2 separate regions of the Homo sapiens genome follow, and region 1 is linked to region 2. The links come from fine-mapping of genetic effects on gene expression. A gene starts in region 2. The other region holds a variant in brackets. All regions are shown on one strand. Distances are between the middles of the regions.

Region 1 (4,394 bases), 85 kb before region 2:
GTTTTGGACAACAAAGTGCCCAGTTCTATGGAAGGTCCAGTCCAGTTGTGGAAATCTCGCCCTCCTTGGCCAGATATTTCCCATGCTTCCCTTGCAGACAGGGTGGCTCCATGAAAGAGTTATAGGGGCATGAAGGAAAGACATGAGAGAGACAAAGAAAGATAAAAGAAAGTGAGCTATTCTTTATGGAAAAATGCCAGCTAATAAATGTAGAAGGAATGGCAGAAGTAGAAAAATCACCATTTTGCAACCTTAAATGTAATAGTTAATCAGGCAAAGACCACTGATGAGTGCTAAAACCACTGTGTGAAAGATGTTGGGGAAGCACATTCACACAGTCTGGGAGAATCACATCATTTATTCCTGACTAATTAGAAAGACAAACATGTGCTCTTACAATGCAGAGATCTGGTAGATACCAGTTTAACCAAGTGTTTAAACTTAGCATCACCAGTAGCAGAGCAACCTGACATGATATGCCTCCTAATGGGATGCAACATAAATATACAACATCACCTGTGAAAGATTTTGGGCAAAATGATTTAACTTGAATCTAATCAAACCTCTAGCATAGACCTAATGTCCAGTGTACAGAAAACATAGGCTATATTGGAACAAATTCAATGCTACTTTGAGGAAATATCAGAAAAACCCAGAATGTGGCTTGAGCTTTTCAAAAAAGTCCATGTCATAAAAAAACAACTAATAAGGGGGGGGGGGCAGGATACTGTTATAGATTCAAAGACACCAAAGAGATAAAACTAAATACAATTTCTGGCTAGGCACGGTGGCTCACGCCTATAATCTCAACAGTTTGGGAGGCTGAGGCAGGGGCAGATCACCTGAGGTCAGGCGTTTGAGACCAACCAGGCAACATGGTGAATCCCCTTCTCTACTAAAAACACAAAAATTAGCCGGGCATGGTGGTGCACACCTATAGTCCCAGCTACTCGGGAGGCTGAGGCGGGAGGATTGCTTGAGCCCAGGAGGCAGAGGCTGCAGTGAGCCAAGATCACACCACTGCACTCCAGCCTAGGCAACAGAGTGAGACTCTGGCTCAAAAAACAAAAAACAAAATATAATTTGTGATTCTTGATTGGATCCTGGAGCAGCAGGTAAAGCCAAAGACACACTGAGTTAGGCACAGTGGCTCGTGTCTGTAATCCCAGCACTCCAGAGGAGGCTAAGGAAGGAGGATCACTTGAACCCAGGAGTTTGAGGCTGCAGCAGGCTGTAATTGAGCTGCTGCACTGCAGCCCGGGTGACTGAGTGGGACCCTGTCTCTAAAAATTAAAATACATTTTGGGGACAATTGGGGAAATCTGAATTTGGATTAGCTATTAGAGAGAGAAAGCAAATGGGGCAAAATGTGAATACTTGGCAAATGCCTGATGGACAGTTCAGTGTACTATCCTGATGGACAGTTCAGTGTACTATCCTGATGGACAGTTCAGTGTACTATCAACTTTCTGAAAGGTTTTTCTAAGTAAAATAAAATTTCTGAAAAAGGCAGAAGACAGAGGAAAATGTCCATAATATGCTGCTAGTGGGAAAAAATAGGTCTAAAAAACAGACCAACAGTATGACTCTACACTACTTTATTTAGTGATACGGATATATGGGCCCAGAAAAAAAAGACTGGAAGGATTTATAGGAAAATGTTGGCAATGTGTATCTCTTGGTACTTTTATGTGGTTTCCGGGTCCTTTGTTTGCTTTCATTGAACACATAATGTTTTTGTAGTTAGAAAAAAAAAATAACAACAAAAAAAGCTCTGGTCTCTGTTATTAGGAGTTTATAATCTGACCACAAGAAAGCTGATTATGCTTATGATGGTTACAGGAAACCCCCCTGCCCCACCAACCCATTTAAAAATGATGATGATCGTGTGCTGCAAAAGATAAGTGCGGAACAACGGCATTCCCCAAAGCCCCTTCCATACCTGGAGAAGTTGTCTTGCAGCTCCTTTAGATGCTTGTCAAAATAATTCCATTCAGTCCAATGATGCTGGTACAACTGATTGAGGTTGTCTTTCCGCTTCTTCATGCTGCACAGGGTCTCGCTGATGACATCAGTATACGTTGGGGTGCAGTCAGTGGCTTCCGCTGTCAAGGAAATCCCCGTACTGTGGAACTGTGTTGACGCTGCATTATTAGTGGCATGAGCGCAGTGCATGGGGAAGAGGGGCATGGAGGACAGA[A/G]CAGGGAAAATGCCCTGCGTTTCTGGATAAGATACCTGAAATCTGAGCAAGAGATGACTCTCCTGCTCTTTGACCATGGCCTGCTTTGGAGGGAAGAGGCCATCCTATCCGTGGCCAGGCGTTCTCTACGTAGGAATAAAGTCCTTCTCTGCCCCTGTGGATGGAAGGCAGGGCTAAGAAATACTTTTTTAGACTGTCATCTGAAATTCTTATTCTATTATCACAGCGGTGAATAGGAAGGGCTCCCAGCTTTCCTTTTCTCTCAGCCCAAGGCCTCATTCTCCATCTCGTTTGTATATAAAAATATTCTTGGCCAGGCGCGGTGTAATCCCAGCACTTTGGGAGGCCAAGGCAGGCGGATCACGAGGTTAGGAGATTGAGACCATCCTGGCTAACACTGTGAAATCCCATCTGTACTAAAAATACAAAAAATTAGCTGGGCATGGTGGCACATGCCTGTAATCCCAGCTACTTGGGAGGCTGAGGCAGGAGAATCGCTTGAACCCAGGAGGCGGAAGTTGCGGTGAGCCGAAATCGCGCCACTGCACTCCAGCCTAGGCAACAGAGTGAGACTCTGTCTCAAAAAAAAAAAAAAAAAAGAAAATTCTCCCTCTGCTCTGCCCTCCTTCCACCCCTTCTTGATTGGTTAGAATCTCAGCTACACTCGCCACAAGCTGTGGGACCTCAGACAAGATAGCAGTCATCCTCTGTGCCTCCATTTCCATATCTGTAAAACAGAGATAATAATGCCCACTTTAGATGATGTTAATCATAATCCTGGTAGTTATTTATGTAGTATCAGCTGTATGCCATTTAATCCTCATCACAACACTGTAAGTTTGGTATAACTATCCAAATTTTAGGAATGAGTAGATAAAGATATTGAGCTTGGAGGTCGAGCTGTGCACATAAGATCTCAAAGCCAGTGGTTGCTAAACTGGGACTCAAATCTAGGGCTGCATATCCCAACCCAGGTTCCTTCCACTACACTAAACTGTCTTTAGAGAACAATGAAGTGATGTTTGGGAAAACATGTTGCAAGAAATAAAACACTATGAAATGTGAGTTGTTGTTATTACTCTCTCCCTATAGAACATGTAAATAAGTTTGCGGACATGCAGTTCTGTGCAGAAGACGCAAAGTCCTCCTAGTTCATTACGAAACTCCTCCTGTTGGGGAGCTCAATGTAGACGTGGATCATCCCAGCCCTTGTTATCTGCCAGGCACTAGCCTTTATCTCTGTTGTGTCTGTAATCTGCATAATAGCCCTATGAGGCAGGTACTCTTATCCCTATTTTACAGGTGAAAAAAATGAGGCACAGAGAGAAGCTGGAACTTATCTCAAATCACTCGGTTTGCAGTAGAGTTGGTTCCTGAGTCCAGGTGTGTTTGAACCAATAGACCAGTTTGATTCCAAATAGAACCCGTGTTCTCTGACTCCTATGGTAAGCTGCTAAGACTCAGGACACCAATATAGGCCACACTTGTTTTCTTTCTTTTTTTTTTTTTTTTGAGATGGAGTTTTACTCTTGCTGCCCAGGCTGCAGTGCAATGGCGTGATCTCGGGTCACTGCAACCTCCGCCTCCTGGGTTCAAGCGATTCTCCTGCCTCAGCCTCCCAAGTAGCTGCGATTATACAGGCACGCACCACCAGGCCCAGCTAATTTTTTTTGTATTTTTAGTAGAGACGGGGTTTCACCATGTTGGCCAGGCTGGTCTCAAACTCCTTACCTCAGATGATCCGCTCATCTCGGCTCTCACAGTGCTGGGATTACAGGCGTGAGCTACCACGCCTGGCCAACCACACCTGTTCTCTTGAGATCTGAGCTTTCTATTAGATCTTTAGGATAAATGGCAACAGGGCCAGGAATATGCTGATGGGTCTAAGGGAGGAATGTGTCTGAGGAGGGTGTTAGATGAAACATACATGTGGACAACAAAATTCCTGGTCAGTACATACTCTGGGGTCAACGAGTGTCTGGGAAGCACTATTTAGTTTCAATATATGTTAGAATACCAAGTTAGCACATTCATTCTGGTAGGTGGAAAACAGATTTTGCACACAAGGAAATTTGACACACCCTGGGGTCTCATGGCCAGTTCACGAGGCTGGCTCTAGATTTGGAACTAAGATGAGCACGATTCTGACCCTGAGGCTCGCACCACTGGCCACCTCTGGCGAGTACACATGGTG
Region 2 (4,394 bases):
CACCTAATGCTGGGGAGGGTGTGGGACAAGGACATTTCCATTTACTGTACTATTATGAAAGCATCTGATAGAGGCTGGGAGCAGTGGCTCATACCTGTAATCCCAGCACTTTGGGAAGCCAAGGCGGGTGGATCACCTGAGGTCACGAGTTTTAGACCAGCCTGGCCGACATGGTGAAATCCCATCTCTACTAAAAATACAAAAAGTTAGCCAGGCATGGTGGCACACACCTGTAGTCCCAGCTACTTGGGAGGCTGAGGCGGGAGAATCGCTTGAGCCCAGGAGGTTGCAGTGAGCTGAGATCATGCCACTGCACTCCAGCCTGGGCGACAGAGCAAGACTCCATCTCAAAAACAAACACACAAACTCAAACAAAAATTTATATCTGCATACTTTCTGACCAGCTCACCTACTTACTAGAAATCTATGTACTATGCCTCAGTTTCCTCATTTCTAAAATGGGGATAACAGTGCCTACCCCAGTGAGCTGCTGTGAAGATTAAAGGAGGACACACCGCACCCACCCACACCCACAGGCACCAGAGCACCTGGTATTTAGGTGTTAACTCTTACCTTTGTTTGGTACATAGGGAAGATTTACCTGATGTTTTCCCAAAAGACCTGCAAGACACTAATTTATTCCTACCAAGTAAAACATGGCTCAGGAAAACGAAACTGGATCAGTGTCTCTCTAAAACAGCCCAAGAAGCAGGCCAAGGAGATGGACAAGGAAGATAAATCTTTGGCCCTGGTCACAGGCCGAATTAAGAAATCCGGCAAGGTGGGGCGCAGTGGCATAGGCCTGTAATCCTAGGACTTGGGGAGGCTGAGGCAGTCGGATTGCTTGAGTCTCGGAGTTCAAGACCAGCCTAGGCAACACAGTGAAACCCTGTCTTTATATATATATGTATGTGTGTGTGTGTGTGTGTGTGTATATGTGTGTATGTATATATACATAATACGTATATATGTATACGTATGTATATATATACATATATACACATACCTATATACACATATATACATATATACACATATATACATATATATACATATATACGTATATATATACACACACATAAAATATATATTATATATAATATATAACTATATATAGGCCAGGTGCGGTGGCTGATGCCTGTAATGCCAGCACTTTGGGAGGCCGAGGCGGGCAGATCACTTGAGGTCAGGAGTTCAAAACCAGCCTAGCCAAATGGTGAAACCCCGTCTCTACTAAAAATACAAAAAATTAGCGGGGCGTGGTTGGTGGTGCATGCTGAGGCAGGAGAATCGCTTGAACCTGGGAGGCGGAGCTTGCAGTGAGCCGGGATCACACCACTGCACTCCATCCAGTCTGGGCGACAGAGCGAGACTCCGTCTCAAAACAAAACCAACAACAACAACAACAACAAAAAGCTAAAATCTTACAAAAAGCGACCTGTTCCACTGTCCCTTGGGCCTGCGGTGATGGTGGGCCTGACTCCATTCGTCTTTAAACATCTCTATTCCCGGCCACATCTTTGGCCACCTATGCTCGAATAAAGTGTTGTCTTGGAGCCTGTTGTAAATTTAAGAATAAACTTTTGTTAAAAAAAAAAATACAGTGGCTCATCATCTCTTGAGTTGTTTTCACTCAGCCACTCCTACCTTAGCTGTGAACTTAAAGTAAAACAAGCCCCCAGAATCTTGCCAGAGTCAGCCCTTTGATCTTTGTTCTCCCCTGAACTCTATTACCTGGAATTAAAACAACGCATTTGAAAAAAAGAAAAACAAGCAAGTTTCTGAGCTCACCCTATACCCGCTGAACAGAATGACTGCGGTGGCGCCCCAGAACCTCTCACAGGCCTCTCAGCTGCTGCTAATGCCCGCCGAAGCCCCGACGCCCGGATAAGGCCAGGGCTGCCGGACCCGCTGCGGGCACTGGAGGACCCGGGGCTAGAGGGCGCCGCTCTCGCCCGGCTCGCGCCTCGGCTCCCGGAAAAGCAGCTCTGTCCGCCGTTCGGCTGCGCTCACCTCCTTTCCGCTTCCGGTGTCCCCTACAGTCATGGCTGCCGCCGTCGCTGCTGCCGGTGCAGGGGAACCCCAGTCCCCGGACGAATTGCTCCCGAAAGGCGACGCGGAGAAGCCTGAGGAGGAGCTGGAGGAGGACGACGATGAGGAGGTACTAGGGCCTCGCGGGGTGCAGAGCGGGAAGCGGGCCCGCTCGTGGGTGTGGGATCCGCGTGGTACGGGATCGGAGCGAAGCGGCTGCTTTGGGAGGCGGGGTTAGGGGCCCTGCTGGGCCCTGGGTGCCCTAGCTCCAGTGGGGCTCGGCGGCTCCCAGTGCCGCAGCGGGGCCAGGAATGGATGTCGCTTTTTCGGCTAAGACCCGCGTCTACTCCACCACAGCTAGATGAGACCCTGTCGGAGAGACTATGGGGCCTGACGGAGATGTTTCCGGAGAGGGTCCGGTCCGCGGCCGGAGCCACTTTTGATCTTTCCCTCTTTGTGGCTCAGAAAATGTACAGGTAAGGAACGAGGGCAAAGGCACTGGGTACGTGCATGGGATGGTCGTGGTGCTGTGAAAGAACACGGGGTTTGGAAGCAGCAGACCCGTGTTGGGTGACCTTGGGCTTGTACCCTATCCTTTCTTAGTTTCCTCTTCTGTAAAATGGGGATTCTTACCTGGCAGGGGAGTTGTGGGGGTTATTTCAGATTGTTGGAGATAATTAATGAATAAGGAGCTTTGTAAGAACTCAGGAGAATGTTAAACCGCCATCACTAGATGATACAGCTACCATAGCTGCTCCTCCTGTCTCTGGTAGGAGTATGGTGTAAGGAGCGGGTAGAATACGTTTATCAAAAACATTGGAGTATGTAATGTGAGAGGTTTGGTTACTGGGTAGTTCTTGCCTGTTTTGTTTGCATGTCTTCATGCTCACCCTCTGGGGATTTTCCTCTGCAGGTTTTCCAGGGCAGCCTTGTGGATTGGGACCACTTCCTTTATGATCCTGGTTCTTCCCGTTGTCTTTGAGACGGAGAAGTTGCAAATGGAGCAACAGCAGCAACTGCAGCAGCGGCAGGTGAGCCCAGACCTTGGGCTTTTTGCCAGTGGTGGAGACGCAAGTTATTTCACTAACACATTGGTCCCCAACCTTTTTGGCACCAGGGACTGGTTTCATGGAACACAGTTTTTACATGGATGGTGGGTTGGGGGTGGCCGGGGGTCGGGGGGGGGGTTCTGGATGATTCAAGTGCATTACATTTATTGTGCACTGAATTTCTATTATTACATTGTAATATATAATGAAATAATTCTATAACGTAGAATGAGTGGGAGCCCTGAGCTTGTTTTCCTGCAACTAGACAGTCCTGTCTGGGGGTGATGGGAGACAGTGACAGATCATCAGGCATTAGATTTTCATAAGGAGCTTGCAACCTAGATCCCTCGCATGCACTGTTCACAAGGGTTTGTGTTCCTATGAGAATCTAACACTGCTGCTGATCTGACAGGAGGTGGAGCTCAGGCAGTAATGTGAGCGATGGTGAACAGCAGTAAACACAGATGAAGCTTCTCTCACTTGCCTGCTGCTGATCTACTGCTGTGTGGCTCAGCTCCTAACAGGCCATGGGCCAGTGCCAGTCCACAGCCCAGGGGTTGAGGGCTCCTGTTGTAGCACCTGAGTTGACCAACAGTTAATGTGTGGGTGGGGATTGGGATCGGGCCCATGCTCTTTTAGTTGTCTGACTGTGCTTTCAGTATTATTTTTGTAGACGTTGGCCCCATCAGGTATGGTGAGAATAAGCTCTCTAGGCCTGTATGATGCCTTACACCCCTCCTTTTCTTTTCCAGATACTTCTAGGACCTAACACAGGGCTCTCAGGAGGAATGCCAGGGGCTCTACCCTCACTTCCTGGAAAGATCTAGATTGTTATTGCTGTTTGAGCTGTCTCAGTGGGATAAGTTTGAAATTCAAGTGTTTGAACTGCTGATAATTTGGATTTTTTTTTTTTTTTAACTTTGGCACATTGATCTATCTAAACCTGGTGGGGAGAATTATCCCCACATTGTCTCATGGAAAGACTCAACTTGCAACTGTGCCCTCCACACTATCCTTACTTCTGTCTCCACTCTGATACCAGAGTGCAGCCATGCAGATGGTTATTCCAGCTCTGGTCACCCGACTCCTTTCACCAAATTGCTCCTAACTGGAAGATCTCACTTTCCCCTTGTGGGGTAGGAACCGATGCCAGTGGGAGGGATGTGCCCCTGACCATTAACGACTGTTTTTTTTTTTTTTTTTTAAAGAATGGAGTTGTTGGGGCAGGACATGCACACAATGTGAAACAGACAAAATGCATTACACCTGTAGTGTAAAGTGGCCACTATGAATCCCTATGTATGAGAGGAGGGA

The links. PIP is the estimated chance that this variant, and not a neighbour inherited with it, causes the effect.
Region 1: its variant is fine-mapped to the expression of TOMM22 in whole blood (INTERVAL, PIP above 0.99).

The regions. Positions count from the first base shown.
Region 1 is chr22:38,595,262-38,599,655 of GRCh38, forward strand. FAM227A (family with sequence similarity 227 member A) reads right to left here. Exons shown (of 17, transcript NM_001013647.2): 15 at 1,943-2,095. Among named protein-coding and RNA genes, the nearest start is that of DMC1, 27 kb to the left of the region's middle. RefSeq lists a silencer at 3,290-3,490. The variant A/G (reference allele first, on the strand shown) is at 2,201.
Region 2 is chr22:38,679,935-38,684,328 of GRCh38, forward strand. TOMM22 (translocase of outer mitochondrial membrane 22) reads left to right here and starts at 2,023. Exons shown (of 4, transcript NM_020243.5): 1 at 2,023-2,161; 2 at 2,389-2,507; 3 at 2,945-3,062; 4 at 3,833-4,394. The coding sequence starts at 2,045. The coding sequence ends at 3,907. It overlaps TOMM22-DT (TOMM22 divergent transcript), which reads right to left and starts at 1,922. Exons shown (of 2, transcript XR_007068097.1): 1 at 1,792-1,922. RefSeq lists enhancers at 1,811-3,010, 2,057-2,126 and silencers at 1,857-1,926, 2,317-2,366.